Regions from separate parts of the Homo sapiens genome. Here all the other regions are reported to be linked to region 2. The links are microRNA targets in miRTarBase. Many come from high-throughput screens and were not tested one by one. Region 2 holds a microRNA gene; each other region holds the end of a gene's coding sequence.
The links. The annotated mature microRNA hsa-miR-5189-5p reads UCUGGGCACAGGCGGAUGGACAGG and lies in region 2 at 1,443-1,466, shown strand. An mRNA with a match to its seed (bases 2 to 7 or 8) in the 3' UTR can be bound and repressed. Matches are read on the target gene's strand: a 7mer-m8 pairs with bases 2 to 8, a 7mer-A1 pairs with bases 2 to 7 and ends in A, and an 8mer does both.

Region 1: the mRNA of LIMD1 is a reported target of hsa-miR-5189-5p. Seed matches in the 3' UTR shown: 7mer-m8 at 3,829-3,835 and 7mer-m8 at 3,998-4,004.
Region 3: miRTarBase lists GOSR1 as a target of hsa-miR-5189-5p. Seed matches in the 3' UTR shown: 7mer-m8 at 3,633-3,639 and 7mer-m8 at 2,959-2,965.

What each region holds. Positions count from the first base shown.
Region 1 is chr3:45,676,523-45,681,522 of GRCh38, forward strand. LIMD1 (LIM domain containing 1) reads left to right here. Exons shown (of 8, transcript NM_014240.3): 8 at 400-5,000. The coding sequence ends at 537. LIMD1-AS1 (LIMD1 antisense RNA 1) reads right to left here. Exons shown (of 3, transcript NR_033947.1): 2 at 2,524-3,549; 3 at 1,643-2,409. Among named protein-coding and RNA genes, the nearest start is that of LIMD1-AS1, 9.9 kb to the right of the region's middle.
Region 2 is chr16:88,467,501-88,472,676 of GRCh38, forward strand. It overlaps MIR5189 (microRNA 5189), which reads left to right and starts at 1,418; the gene lies at 1,418-1,531. All of the region lies in intron 1 of ZFPM1 (zinc finger protein, FOG family member 1), which reads left to right.
Region 3 is chr17:30,521,681-30,526,680 of GRCh38, reverse strand. It overlaps GOSR1 (golgi SNAP receptor complex member 1), which reads right to left. Exons shown (of 9, transcript NM_001007025.2): 9 at 1-4,427. The coding sequence ends at 4,303. Among named protein-coding and RNA genes, the nearest start is that of GOSR1, 47 kb to the right of the region's middle.

The DNA.
Region 1 (5,000 bases), not on the chromosome of region 2:
AACTCCCACTTATGAGTGAGAACATGTGGTGTTTAGTTTTCTGTTCCTTTGTTAGTTTGCTGAGAATGATGGCTTCCAGCTTCATCCATGTCCCTGCAAAGGACATGATCTCATTCCTTTTTCCCATGAGATATTTTTACATCCTCTTTTTGTCCTAAGTCTTCGGAATCTGCATTTACACTGACAGCACATTTTAAGTGGTTCACAGCAAGTGCCTTGTGGCAGTGTCTCCTGTGTTGGACAGGCCTCCACGGGGCAGGAGCTGTGTTTCTGCACTGGCATTTCCTGCCTATACAGAAACACACAGCACCCTCTGCTGATTTTGGGGACTGTGGCCTTCAGGTCAGTCTTGCAGTCTGTTTTGTTTTGCTTCCCCTGGACATGTCTGCCTCCCCACAGGACTGTGGTCTGGAGCTCAATGATGAAGATGGCCACCGCTGTTATCCGCTGGAGGACCACCTGTTCTGTCACTCCTGCCACGTGAAGAGGCTGGAGAAGAGACCCTCATCTACAGCCCTTCACCAGCACCACTTCTAGCCAGAGCCACTTGCAGACATCACGGCAGGGGATGAGGAGCCGGGGTTGCTGCTGCTGCTTCCGGTGGCCCCTGGGGTGGAAGTGGGGTAGGGGAAGAGGAGGGGCAGGAGGGAGAGTTCCTGTGAGCATGTGGGGGGTGCCTTTCCTTTAACCAGGGAGGTGAACACTACCTGCCTCCTGCGTGTATTTTCCAAGTGCTTTTCTCTGTTGCCACATTTTCCTCAGGTTACTCAGGAAAATGCTCCAGCATGTGCGAGCACATGACCTGAGGTTGCATCATAGCACCAAAGGAATCCTCCTGTCCCCTCTGGGAACATTTCATGCTTCAGAGGGAGAGGTTTTTATTGAGCTTGTTTCACAATATCCCCTTGAAGGGACAGCTCAGCTGCCAATACATTCAACCCTTTCTCTTCCTTCAGGAAAATACCTATACCCAAATGTTCCCTCCCCCGACATATATCATGGCATGATTTAAGGCTTCTTTTCACCTGAGAGCTTCAGTTCTTCTGCAGAATGGCTGCAAATTTAATTGCATTAAGGCAAGAAGGAAGCTCTAATGTGTGCTTTGTATCCTAAGATAAATTTGCTTAGAAAACCAGAGTCAAGATTTGAAATAGGTGAGGCAGGGTTTCCTCCTTAGACACTGACAGCATTCTCTGTACCCCTTCAAATCCTTACTCTCCTAAAGGCAGCTGAGTCCGCGACAGAAATTTGCCCTATGTGAGTAAAACATACTTTGGGAGAAGAACTTGGTGCAGGCACCAGGATTTTTTTTTTTGCCCACGTGTTTGCGCTGTTTTTCTCTGGAGTTCTCAAGAGTTGGTGACTTGGAAGGCCGCTTCTGCAAGGCAAGTCTCAGGAACCCATGCAGGTACATCGCTTGCACCTGTTTTTAGCTTATTTAATGACGGGCTTTTGGGAAGAGCTGCCCGCATACTGAGAGACAGCTTCTTATAAACAAGGAGAGTTTTTGTGTGTGCGAGATCTCTAAGCCAGCGTGGGAGGGAGCGCCTCAGGATAAGTTATTATATTCATTTCGTTGGTTTCTCTCCTGCCCAATTCTTGGCACAGGCATTATGTTTGAAGAAACCAGGATAAGGTACACTGCTTTTGTCTGTTTAATTTTTTTAGTTGTTTCCCTTCACTTTCAGTCTTCCACACACAAAAAATACCTCACAGAGCTTCACCAAATCACAGATTCAGGAGGAATTTGGCTTTCACACTGGACTCAGATACCTTCTTCAGTGTGTTGGAAATCACTGGCTTCACACAGGCCCAACTCCAGCTGGTCAGGGCAGAGTGATCGTAACTAAAGGTCAGTGGGGAATAGATCCGATTCAGTGCTTTTGCCTTATGCATTTCAGCATCCTGGCTCCCCAGGGTGGCAGGAGCTGAGGGAGGGCCACACACTGGCAAGATTTCAAGACCACTCTCTGCACTGAAGAGGTAAAATTTGCACTGCAAGTCACATCCCTGAGGCCAGAGGTCAGTACCCTTTGGTATTTCGATTAGAAGAAGCTGCAAAAGAAAGGCAGCCCATTTTACCATTGCCAGCCAGGCCGGGGACACAGGAGCCGGTGTGTGCACTCTGCCTCCTCACCTTGCACCCAGAGCAAGAGGACTGGGTGCTGGGCTGCAGAGGCCGGTCAGTGGAGCCCCTAGCACGTGTGAACTCAGGCTTTTCATTGGGCCCGGCTCCACTTCTAGGCCATGTTTTGACTCATTTGGTAACCATTGCCTGTAAGCAGCACAGAATTGGTGCCATGGATTATCTTTTCCATGTTGATGGAATTCATTCTGTTGGAATCCTTTGGCCAGATGTCACTTCAGCCAGGGTGTGCATCATCATTGGTTCTTTTTCACAGGCTGAGCCTCCTGAAAACCCATGAACGCTGGGGCTGGGGAAGTGAACCCTGAGGTGGGGACCCTCTCTTCCCATCAAATCATCCAGCTCAGTGTGGGGCGTGGCAGGGGGGTAAATGAAGCCAGCCAATGTGTTAACCTGTCTCTGTCAACCTAAGAATGTTGGCCTTACTGACACACCTTTGCTCCATGTTCAAGACCAGAAGTAGCTGGGATTTGTTTGCAAATTGGGTAATTAGTTTAAAAATCTGTGATTACATTTTTAAATGAAATTTTCAAAGTGGCCTAGATTGAGGTGATTCAGATAGGTTTGCGAATATACCATTTTATATTGTTGAGAAAGAACAAAAAGGGAATTTCCAGATGTCCTAGAAATCCTAGCAACAGATTTCTCTGGTTGTCAGTTTCCCTGGAGAAGGCGCCAGATAGGAATCTCCAATCAGTTGTTTTTCTCTTCGCTTCAGGCCCTTACACAAAAGCCATGAAGAGATGTTCACCTACCCGGTATTTTAAATGTTCTGTAAATTATTAGCCAAATAGAACTGTAATGGGGTTGTATTTATGGGCGCCTAGAAAGAAAACACAAGGACTTGGTAGGCCAGGAAGAAAAGATTTTAAAATTTAGAATGAATAGCCCTTCTGGGTTTTCTTTTTGACAATTCTTGGACTTGAGGTAAAACAAGGAGGATTGTGGCCGGATTTCAGATCCCAAAGCCAGCCTCCATCTTAGGCCTTTGCCTCATTGTGCCTTTTAGGTTTTCTTACCCACCGTCTCCTGTTTTGTCTTTTTTTTCTTTTCTCCTACCCCTATCTTGGGACATTCAGAAACTGCCTGGGTGGTTTGAGAAGAGACAACCCAGTTTGATCTGCAATACAAGGATCCATTCGTAATCTCTCTCTCACTGATGTTATTCCCCCATCTGCCGTCTTGGTTCATCTCACCACAGAAGGGCATTTAGTCCTACCCAGCCATCGGCTGCGTATGACAGCAGGATGGCACTTCCCATTTCTCTGTGGTTAGTGCTCGAGTGAAAACCTCTTTCAGCTGAGTCCTCTGAGGTTCTGCTGTTGAGTCCTGGGTGGCTGATGGAATGATTGAGGAGGTCTGGTCACCCTCAAGCGCCGTCATCGCCTTGTTTCCATGGGCTTCTGTCACACAAAATGAAGAACAGAAATGTTAGGACTTAAGAGAATGTTTGGAATTCACACCTCTTTGCAGTCCTTTCAAGGCTGCTGCTCTGTGCTGTGTCCCATGCATGTGAAAGTAGAGCTGTGATGGCTGCTGGGACGCTTGCAAAGATCATGTGTGAGAATTGAGCACAAGACCACAAATTATTACTGCTTGATGCGCTTGTTAAAACTCTATCTGCCAGGAAACCAAATTTTCTTTTCTTTTCTTTTTTTTTTTGAGACAGGGCCTCACTCTGTTGCCCAGGCTGGAGTGCAGTGGCGCGATCTCAGCTCACTGCAGCCTCCACCTACTGGGCTCAAGTGATCCTCCCACCTCAGCCTCCCGAGTAGCCGGGACCACAGGCGTGTATGACTGGCTACGCCTGGCTAATTTTTGTATTTTTAATAGAGACGAGTTTCACCATGTTGCCCAGGATGGTCTGGAACTCCTGGGCTCAAGTGATCTGCCCACTTCCGCCTCCCAAAGTGTTGGGATTATGGCCATTAGCCACTGTACCTGGCACAATTTTTTTTTGTACCCTCCTTTATGCCAAGAATCAGTCCTAATTTCTTTACTATGTGAAGTAACTTTTAAAGGTAATAGAAAAGGCCAGGCACAGTGGCTCATGCCTGTAATCCCAGGCGCCGTGGCTCACGCCTGTAATCCCAGCACTTTGAGAGGCTGAGGCGGGTGGATCACTTAAGGTCAGGAGTTAGAGACCAGCCTGACCAACATGGTGAAACACTGTCTCTACTAAAAATACAAAATTAGCTGGGTTTGGTGGCGCACGCCTGTAATCCCAGCTACCTGAGAGGTTGAGGCAGGAGAATCGCTTGAACCTGGGAGGCAGAGGTTGCAGTGAGCCGAGATGGTGCCATTGCACTCCGACCTGGGCAACAGAGCGAAACACTGTCTCAAAAAAAAAAAAAAAAGTAACAGAAAAAAGAGTGAAATATATTAGCTATCTTTTATTCTGAGCCAAAACTTGACAGATGTGGGAAATCTTCATATAGTGTATGAAAATTTCATTGTACAGGGAAATTATTTTCCTCTGTGTCTTTTCTTTTACTATAAAGTGATTCAGAATTTTACTGTTACTATAAAATTATGCAAAGTATTGTGACAAAACTGCATCAATTTGTTGACTATTAAAGTGCTCCTTGAACATTATATTTCCTGGGTCTTTTCTGTGTGTGGAGTCAGCAAACTGTTTTTTGCTACCTGGACTTTGTCTTCTTTTACAGCTCTGGATTCTTAAAAGTACCACATAGGTAGCAAACCTGTGAAGGGTATGAGATTTTACCCTACTTGCAGGCTAATAAAGTGAGCACACCACATGGGTTCATGGATCCTGGCAGAAGTTATGAGACTCATAGGTCAGAGACAAAGGACAGTTTATTATAGCAATAGCAGTGGCCAGATTATCAGC
Region 2 (5,176 bases):
CCTATAAAATGGGGTGCCAGTCGCCCTCTCAGAGTCCTTTCAAGGAGCTGATGGTGTAGACCGCGAGACCTGCCTTGCAGGGCACATGCGCAGCTGCTCCTGTCATGCTGGGACCTCCGGACCCCGGGCCTCGCAGCTGCCTTGGATCCCCTCCCTCCTCCAGTCACGGGCTCTGGGCTGGCTGCTGGGCGTGTTGGGCACAGCGGGCCCTAAGCTGACCCGTGCCCTTTGTGGCTGGGACCTGAGATGGGGAGGCCCCCACCCCCTAGTTCCATGGCTTTGGGAGGTGGGGGTGGGGTGTTTTCTACTCTACCACCCTACAACGAAAAAGAAGAAAAGAGAACTTGATAAAAAAGGGCGATGCGTGCTGTGCGGTGGAGGAGGTGCTATCGCCGTTATCTATCTGCTTGCTCGAGCTGAGCGGCCCCCCTTCCCCTTATCTCACCCCACCCTAATGCCAGGAACAAAAGTGAGAACACACTCTCAACCCGCACACCCGCGAGCCCCCCACCGCCCCTCACACACCCGCGAGCCCACCGCCCCTCACGCCCCCGCGAGCCCACCGCCCCGACCCACCCGCGAGCCCACCGGCCGCTGACGCACCTGCGAGCCCACCGCCCCTCACGCACCCGCGAGCCCACTGCCCCTGACCCACCCGCGAGCCCACAGGCCCTGACGCACCCGCGAGCCCACCGCCCCTCAAGCACCCGCGAGCCCACCGCCCCTCAAGCACCCGCGAGCCCACCGTCCCGACGCACCCGCGAGCCCACTGCCTGCGGCGCACAGAGCCACCAGATCTAGAGGGAGAGCTGAGCACTCGGGGTGCTCTGAAAGTCATCATCATCATCATTTTGCAAAGAAAGCCCCCAAATAGCCCTCCCTGAAACAAGGCAGCCAAAAATAAGAAGTCGCTCTCAACAGGCCCCCACAGGAGAAAAGAGGCCGGCCTTGGAGAGGGGTTGGGACTTGGGGCCAGGTCCCAGCTGTGCCGGCCTCTTGGCTGTACGACCTTGGACCAGTATCTTTCCCACTCAGAGTCATCCCTGAATGGATGTCAGGGAGCCTTCGAGGAAAGGGGAGAGCCTGCACTGTAACTGAAGCCCCCCACCAGCCCCATGCAGCTTTCTGACCCTAGACTTGGGGCTGGGACCAGTCACCCAGAATCTGATACCCCCAGGGCCCCGCCCCCCAGAGCCCCACCCCCATGGCCAGGGCACCACTGTCCTAACCAGCCTGTTGGCAGCCAATGGAAATGGGGTATGCAAATGAGCAGGGGTGAGGCCCAGGGATTGGCTGAGCTGCTGTGTGGGGGCAGGGCCTCCTCCAGGGGCTGCCCTTGACCTGGGGGAGTAGTTCCCATCCTGGACCCTGCCCCAGGACGGGAGACCTCTGCCACCACCACCACCGGCTCTGGAAGGGCCCGCCTTTTAGGGGCCTCGCTGTCTGGGCACAGGCGGATGGACAGGCTGGCCTCTGGATGACCTGCCAACCGTCAGAGCCCAGACCCACGTGGCCTCAGTTGGGGACCAGGACCCAGGAGTTCCCGAGAGGAGTGCAGCCAGCAGCCACTCCCAGATGGGAACAGCGAGTTTCACAACCCGGCAGGGACGGCCCTGGGGCCAGCCAGCCTCCCACCCCCATGTCTGGGCCCACTCCAGACCCTCCTGCAGGCTGCCCCCCACCGCTCCACCCTCTCCCCGCGCTGACTTCCATCCGGAACCTCATTCTGCCAAGCTTCTGAAGTGCCGGCCGGGCCAGGGACGTGGCACCATCTTAATGAATGACAGTCCCAACCCCTTTGCCCACCCTCAGCCTCCCCATCTGTAAAACCGGAAGGCGGTCTAGTAGGTCTGCCTCCCAGGATGGTTTCTGGGCTCTTCAGCAAGCCCCTTGCCGGCCTGGGCCTCAGTTTCCCCTTCCACACCATGAGGCTGAGGTGGCAGGTTCTCTGGGGGTCCTCCTGTCTGTGGCTGTGGCATAGCCTGGAAACCTGGGGTCTTCCAGATTTCCCATTGTCAGAAATTCATGTGCCAGGAGACCATGTCTACAGGGGGCTTAGGACACCTTAGGGGGCATGCACCTGTGTTCTGCATCCACCCACACTGCACAGTGGGTCTTGCTGGCAAGACCAGGATGAGGCAGGCTCCGCCGGCCTGAGACCTGGCTGGAGGCCCTGTCAGCTCCCACGGCACCTGAAAATCAGCCACAGGTGTGGGTGTTTGTCAAAAATGTGTAAGTGGAAAATAGTGGCGGGGCGAGGAGAGAAAGAGTCTGGGCTGAGATCTAAGGAGAGGAAGTAGGGAGGGGCCGTCCGACCAGAACCAGACATCACCTTGGCCAGGGCCCCACCCCCTAACGTGGGGTGCAGTGCCTCTCACGTGGTGAGGGTCAGAGGTGCGTGCCCAGCCCAGAGGATCTCCCCACGCAGCCCTCCCAGTCTGCAGAGGGGTCTCCACACATGCAGGCAGCTCTGTCCTCTCCCAGGACAGCTTGGGGCATACAGTAGGTGCTCCATAAATACTCCCCAGCTGATTTCTGGATCTGCTCCCTGTGCCTGGCTGTGTCCCCAGAGGCAAAGCAAGCAGAAGGAAAAAGGAAACGGAGAAAAAGCCAGGGCCTCCAGAGCCAGCATTGTCCTGGGCAAAGGCCCCTCCCGTGTAGGAGCATCGCCTGTGGAGAGCCACGGTCCTTGTCCCTGTGCTGGGGCTGTGACTCACTCCTGCGGGGTCCTTGCTGTCAGGGCCACCCCACCTGTCCTGGGGACAGGGCTGCTGGACGGGTTGGGGCGGGCAGCCTCTGGATGCCCACGGGTGTCCCCTGTACTCTCCAAACCTGTACTGAGTGCCTGCTGTGTGCTGGGCATGGTCCAGGGACCCCAGGTGACCTCATGGAACCCCAGCCTAACGAGGGAGAGTGAACACAGGGGTCTGACGTGCTCTGTGGCAGAACCACTGGGGAGGCTGTTGTTGGGGGACTGGTGGTGTGGAGGGCCGGGTGGTGACACTCAGTGACAGGTGAGGATGTGGCACGGTGTGGAGGGCCGGGTGGTGACGCTGAGTGACAGGTGAGGATGTGGCACGGTGTGGAGGGCCGGGTGGTGACGCTGAGTGACAGGTGAGGATGTGGCACGGTGTGGAGGGCCGGGTGGTGACGCTGAGTGACAGGTGAGGATGTGGCACGGTGTGGAGGGCCGGGTGGTGACGCTGAGTGACAGGTGAGGATGTGGCACGGTGTGGAGGGCCGGGTGGTGACGCTGAGTGACACGTGAGGATGTGGCACGGTGTGGAGGGCCGGGTGGTGACGCTGAGTGACAGGTGAGGATGTGGCACGGTGTGGAGGGCCGGGTGGTGACGCTGAGTGACAGGTGAGGATGTGGCATAGGGAAACACATCCTCGCCGAGCGCACAGTGGGAGCTCCGAGCAGGGGATGAGGTCGTCCAGGAAGGGGCGGGAGACGCAGCGTGACGCACTGACCCAGGGCCCAGCTCAGATGCCAGTACCTCACCCGGTGGGGTCCAGCCTCCGCGACAGGCATTCCCTTCCCCGTGTGCCCTTGCCAACTACATACTGGGCTGCCCAGAGGCTGCCTTCTGAAGGAGCGAGGGGGCCGGGAGGAGGAAAGCCCAGCTCCCCTGCAGCCATGATAGATAGACCAGACTTTTCCTCTCCACTTACTCCGCCCTGACCGCGATGGGCACTGAGAATTCAGACAAGAGCCGGACTCCCTGAGCTCCCAACCAGCTGACCCTCCAGGGCTGCAGCCATGTGTGACCTCCACCCTCGCGAAGGCCAGCGGCCGCAGGGTCTGGCTTGGGCTATAGCATCTAGGCTCTGAGATGACTGTGTCCGTGGCGGCTCCCGCTCACAGTTCAGGACCCCGAGATGACCGTGCCCACAGTGGCTCCCACGCATAGTGGGGGGGCCAAGACCCCAAGATGACCATGGCTGCGGTGGCTCCTGCTCACAGTGGGGGATGCCAGGACCCCGAGACGACCATGCCCACAGTGGCTCCCACGCATAGTGGAGGGGCCAAGACCCCAAGATGACCATGGCTGCGGTGGCTCCTGCTCACAGTGGGGGACGCCAGGACCCCGAGATGATCGTGGCTGTAGCGGCTCCCACTCACAGAGGTGGGGTCAGGGCCCCAAGATGACCGTGGCCGCGGTGGCTCCCACACACAGTGGAGGGGTCAGGGCTCCCGGCTCTAAAGCCACATGGCCTGGGCATGAATTCCTGCCCACCACTTACTCACACTGGGATCTGCCACAGACACCTGAGCCTGTGACTAAGACTAAGGCTGTGTGTCCATCTCTGTGAAATCGGGGCGAGGCCCCCGCGGGCTGGGAGGGCTCTGGGCCTCCGGCTGGCTGTGCACCATGTTCCACTGGGTTATTCCTGAGGGGACCTGCAGGTCCGCAAGAGCCTTGGGTGGGCCGGGGCAGGGGCCGTGTGGTCTGCAGGGAGTGGAGCCAGAAGCCTGGGCCTCCCCGGTAGGAGCCCGGCAGGGCCAAACCCTGATGGGCAGCGGAAGTCTGTTGGGGCCACTCTCAGGACAGGTCACCTCAGCTGGGCTCCCACCACCCATGGCCGCCGGTAACCCCACCCCATCTGTGGACCCAGTTCGTGGAGGGGGCGCAGGGCTGAACCCCAGCGAGCCCCAGCCTCAGTGTCCACACCCACAAGTGGCTGGAGGCACGGTGGTGGGCAGGGCAGGTGCCCACAGGGTGGGGCACACAGGCAGGGATGTGCCAGCTCTGCGCCTCGGTCCCAGGAGAAAGGGAAGAGGCACCAGAGCGCCTGCTGCCACCACAGCACAGAGAGGGTGGCATTTCCTGCTTTTTTGTTTGAATTTTCTTTTTTTTTTTTTTTTTTGAGACTGAGTCTCGCTGTGTCGCCAGGCTGGAGTACAGTGGTGTGATCTGGGCCCACTGCAACATCTGCCTCCCGGATTCAAGATATTCTCCTGCCTCAGCCTCCTGAGTAGCTGGGACTATAGGCGCCTGCCACCACGCCCAGCTAATTTTTGTATTTTTAGTAGAGACGGGGTTTCACCCTGTTGGCCAGGATGGCCTCCATCTCCTGACCTCGTGATCTGCCCGCCTCAGCCTCCCAAAGTGCTGGGATTACAAGCGTGAGCCACTGCGCCCGGCCTGAATTTTCTATTTTTTATTGTGGT
Region 3 (5,000 bases), not on the chromosome of region 2:
CAAAAACTTACAAAGTGCATTTGGAAAACAATAGGTTTTAAAAATCTGTATTGGCATTTTTTCAAGAGGAAACATCTTCCATCACAGGAAAGTATGGTTGGAATTGATTTCCCTCCTCCCTTAAGAGCTAACAGGGTGGGAATGGATGCAAATACCTTGATATTAAAGTGAGCTCTCAGGTATCTTTTAATTTTTTTTGCAGAGACAGAGTCTTGCTACATTGCCCAGGCTGGTCTCAAACTCCTGGCCTCAAACGATCCGCCTGCCTTGGTCTCCCAAAGTGCTAAGATTACAGGCGTGAGCCACTGCACCCAGCCCTATTGTCATGGTTTTTCATATTTTTTCAGTGAAATGAAAAGTTTTGAGTGGTTACTTAAAAGGACCAAAAAGGAAAGATTCATTATAATAAGACAATAGTTGAGGGGGCATAACTTCCCCTAAGAGGTAACATTTGGATCCAGAAGTAGAAAATTCCTTCTGACCTCCTGGCTGTGACTAGCATTAACAAGTAACTAACTGTTAGCCTCTGAATCTGGTAACTGGTCCGTAAGGAGGACAGCAAAAAAGGAGAGAAAGCCAAGGTGGTTAAACAAAAAAGTTAAATGACATGGAGCTGAAAGAGCTCAAATCCCTTCATGGGATCCCCACGGAGCCCCTTCCTGTGGACACACACCTCTCTTCCCTTGCTGGAGGTTTCTTTCTGCAAAGAAACCCTAAGAGGAAAAAGCACTGGCCTAGCTGTCTACATGTGGCCCTGGGTCACCTTAGTATAGGCTGCAGCACGGAGAGGTTAGTCAGACCTATCTGACACCAACATCCATACCAAGCCTTTTAACTTCCTTGGAAGAACTGGTTTATTTTCATAAAGAAAATAACCAACATAATTCCATTACTTCACATAAGCAAAACCCTAATGGAAAGGCCCATCAGCCATCAACAGGGTTTGCTTGGCTGCAGTGAGCTAGACTAGCTTGTGTCCCAGTTCACTCTCACACAATCAGCTTTAATGAATGCACAAAAGAATCAGACCAGTAAAAAAGACTGGTAGTATAATTAAATAAATAACTTTATTTATGATACTTCAGATTTTATAAATGCCAACTACATAGCAAAGTCCCATAAATTTTAACCGAGACACAACCACCAATCAAGGCCCTTTGAAAAATCAAAGATAATAAAGTGTCAAGGGAGAAAAGTTTTGTTCTCCCAACAGAGAATTTAATCAATGAACTTACTTCTCTGATCATTTAAGGTTCACAATGGGAAAACTTCTTTTCTTTTAAGGGTACCCTGAATCAATTAACAGTCAATCAACCCACATTTAGAAAAATAAACCCCATAGTTAAGAAAAATATATCAAATGCCCTTCACACCCATAATGTAACAAAACTTTGACACCAGAATGAAAAACTTCTCAGTCTCTGTACCAAACCAGGTGTTAGTCCACCCATGAGCAAGTTCGCCTGAATAACAGCATCTATACACCATGATGTAGCTGAGAACTACAGCTGATATCCTTTTATTGCCTGTGGCTCGGACTGAAGCCAATACTATAAATACCACAGTGAATTCCAATGGTGAAGAGCAGCAGTGTAGATGTTGGAAGTCTACAAACCAGGCTGTAGTTCAGTAAGACAAGTCATGAATTTACAGAAACTAAGAAATGGTTAACTCGAAAAGAATTCTGGTGGCTGGCTTAAAATCTGTCACTGTCCAGGGATGGTAACAGAAGACAGGTGCAGAGAGAGACAGATTCTGCCACATGCACCCTCAACAGTGAAACCATTCTCTGGATGTTTGGAAATGCTTAACAGATTTGGAATGAACAGATTTTCACAGAACTCAGGATTCCTGGTACATCAGGCAGTAGTCCTTAAACTTTTGCCCATACGTTGTGGAGCATTTACAAAAGCAATTCTCTGGACAGTGAGCCCTCAATGCCTTTTTATATGTGGCTTCTTGAATAGATCACATTAGAAATTGAGCAGTCCCCTTCCTCAGCTACCAGTGTCAATGCTGGTATGAGGAGGAGCAGTGGGGGCACTGACAGACACTGGTGATTCGTTTCTTTTATCATAGTGGAACTGAGATTTCATTTCTTTTCAGTAGAAAATATTAATCCAAGGGAAGAATTAAAAAAAAAATGGAAACAATGACTGGTGCCTTAAATATAAGACTGTCATTCTTGATGTTTTTCCAGCAATACAGTTAACCCCAGTGTACTTGTAATTTAAAAGAAAAAGACAGTTTTACAGTGATCTCCATTTCAGACAACCTCAAACATGCTGAAGCTGGTCCATCAGCATCTCAAAGAATCTATGAAAAACAGAATTTTCCCCAAATATCAACAGAGTTGAGGAGACAGAGTAGAAATCTATAGCACAGATCATCAAGAAAGAACTTGTGATTTCTCATTATGAGTGTAAAATAAGAGGACAAGAATTATTATTATATTATTTTTTTTTTAATTGATCATTCTTGGGTGTTTCTCGCAGAGGGGGATTTGGCAGGGTCATAGGACAATAGTGGAGGGAAGGTCAGCAGATCAACAAGTGAACAAAGGTCTCTGGTTTTCCTAGGCAGAGGACCCTGCCGCCTTCCGCAGTGTTTGTGTCCCTGGGTACTTGAGATTAGGGAGTGGTGATGACTCTTAAGGAGCATGCTGCCTTCAAGCATCTGTTTAACAAAGCACATCTTGCACCACCCTTAATCCATTTAACCCTGAGTGGACACAGCACATGTTTCAGAGAGCACCAGGTTGGGGGTAAGGTCATAGATCAACAGGATCCCAAGGCAGAAGAATTTTTCTTAGTACAGAACAAAATGAAAAGTCTCCCATGTCTACTTCTTTCTACACAGACACGGCAACCATCCAATTTCTCAATCTTTTCCCCACCTTTCCGCCTTTTCTATTCCACAAAACCGCCATTGTCATCATGGCCCGTTCTCAATGAGCTGCTGGGCACACCTCCCAGATGGGGTGGTGGCCAGGCAGAGGGGCTCCTCACTTCCCAGTAGGGGCGGCCGGGCAGGGGCGGCCGGGCAGAGGCGCCCCCCACCTCCCTCCCGGACGGGGCGGCTGGCCGGGCGGGGGGCTGATCCCCCCCACCTCCCTCCCGGACGGGGCGGCTGGCCGGGCGGGGGGCTGACCCCCCCACCTCCCTCCCGGACGGGGCAGCTGCCCGGGCGTAGACGCTCCTCACTTCCCAGATGGGGTGGCTGCCGGGCGGAGGGGCTCCTCACTTCTCAGACAGGGCGGCTGCCGGGCGGAGGTCTCCTCACTTCTCAGACGGGGTGGCCAGACAGAGACGCTCCTCACCTCCCAGACGGGGTCGCGGCCGGGCAGAGGAGCTCCTCACATCCCAGACGGGGCGGCGGGGCAGAGGCGCTCCCCACATCTCAGACGATGGGCGGCCGGGCAGAGACGCTCCTCACTTCCTAGATGGGATGGCGGCTGGGAAGAGGCGCTCCTCACTTCCTAGATGGGATGGCGGCCGGGCAGAGGCGCTCCTCACTTTCCAGACGGGGTGGCGGCCGGGCAGAGGCTGCAATCTCGGCACTTTGGGAGGCCAAGGCAGGTGGCTGGGAGGTGGAGGTTGTAGTGAGCCGAGATCACGCCACTGCACTCCAGCCTGGGCACCATTGAGCACTGAGTGAACGAGACTCCGTCTGCAATCCCGGCACCTCGGGAGGCCGAGGCAGTCAGGCGTGGCGGCGCTCGCCTGCAATTGCAGGCACTCGGCAGGCTGAGGCAGGAGAATCAGGCAGGGAGGTTGCAGTGAGCCGAGATGGCAGCAGTACAGTCCAGCTTCGGCTCGGCATCAGAGGGAGACCGTGGAAAGAGGGAGACCGTGGGGAGAGGGAGAGGGAGAGGGAAGAATTATTTTTATTCACAATCCAATCTGGCAGCTAAAAGAAAAGCAGTCTTTGGATGTAGAAACCTGGTTTTCTGAAGAGCCCAGCTGTAAGACCTGGCTTGTCATTAGGCTTCAACACTATCATGGAAACACAGAAAACTCTGTTTTTGATTGGTTTACCTGCCTCCTAGGGAGACAAAAGCAACTGAAAACCTTTTTTTTTTTTTTTTAATTAAAAACAGAAAAATGTGTTAGAAAACACAGCACAGAGAAACTGTGGCTTCAGCTCAACCTGACCATGTCACAGAGTCCATCACTGTCAGTCTTGCATTCATCCTGCTGGTCAGGCTAATTATCAAGACAGTCAACTTCTCCCTCCGATGTTTCCTTATTCCAGACCAGGGTGTGAAAGCGGTGGCTGTCAAGAGTCCCTGAAGATGTCCCATCAATGGAACGCATACAGCAGCAACAGGATGGTACAGATCCCAATAACACCCCCTAGGATGAGCGAGTCCCGCCGCTTCCTCAGGTTGATCCTCTGGATCAGGCTGTTTACAGCAGGAAAACGATCTTTGGGAAATCTTTATTAAGGTCATATTTGGAAGAAGCCTCTCTGGCGAAAAGTCGTAGGAATCACAAAAATAGAGATCAGTGGTGTCTAGAAACAGTGATGAAAGGCATGGGGAAGAAACTCACACCAAGGGAATCTTTAGCAGATGCAGTTGCCCAAACCGGGAACGCGCTGCGGCTCAAGGCCCCTAACCAATACACATCTCCCAGTCTTGTGTGTAACACAAATAAGAATAGTAATAGAGAGAGAGGGAGAAGAAAAGGACGATGACAGTTCCCAAGCACTGAGGGCTTACTGCCAGGCTTCAGGTCAGGGTGGGAGCCAGCGTGGCCAGGAATGGAGGAACTCTGGCAGGGAGGCACAGGCATAGCCAGCTCCCATCGCCACCACCACCCATTTCCCTCCCTTTCCTCATTTTCCTTCTCTTTTCCTCTTCTCTCAGGAGACTGGGGAGTTCTGCCTGAGAGTTTGAAGAAATACCTGATCTTTTCCCGCCTTAGATTCAGGCAATTCATGGGAACCAACTCTAAGGTCTATATAATCAGACACTGGTGAATTATTAATATTTTCAA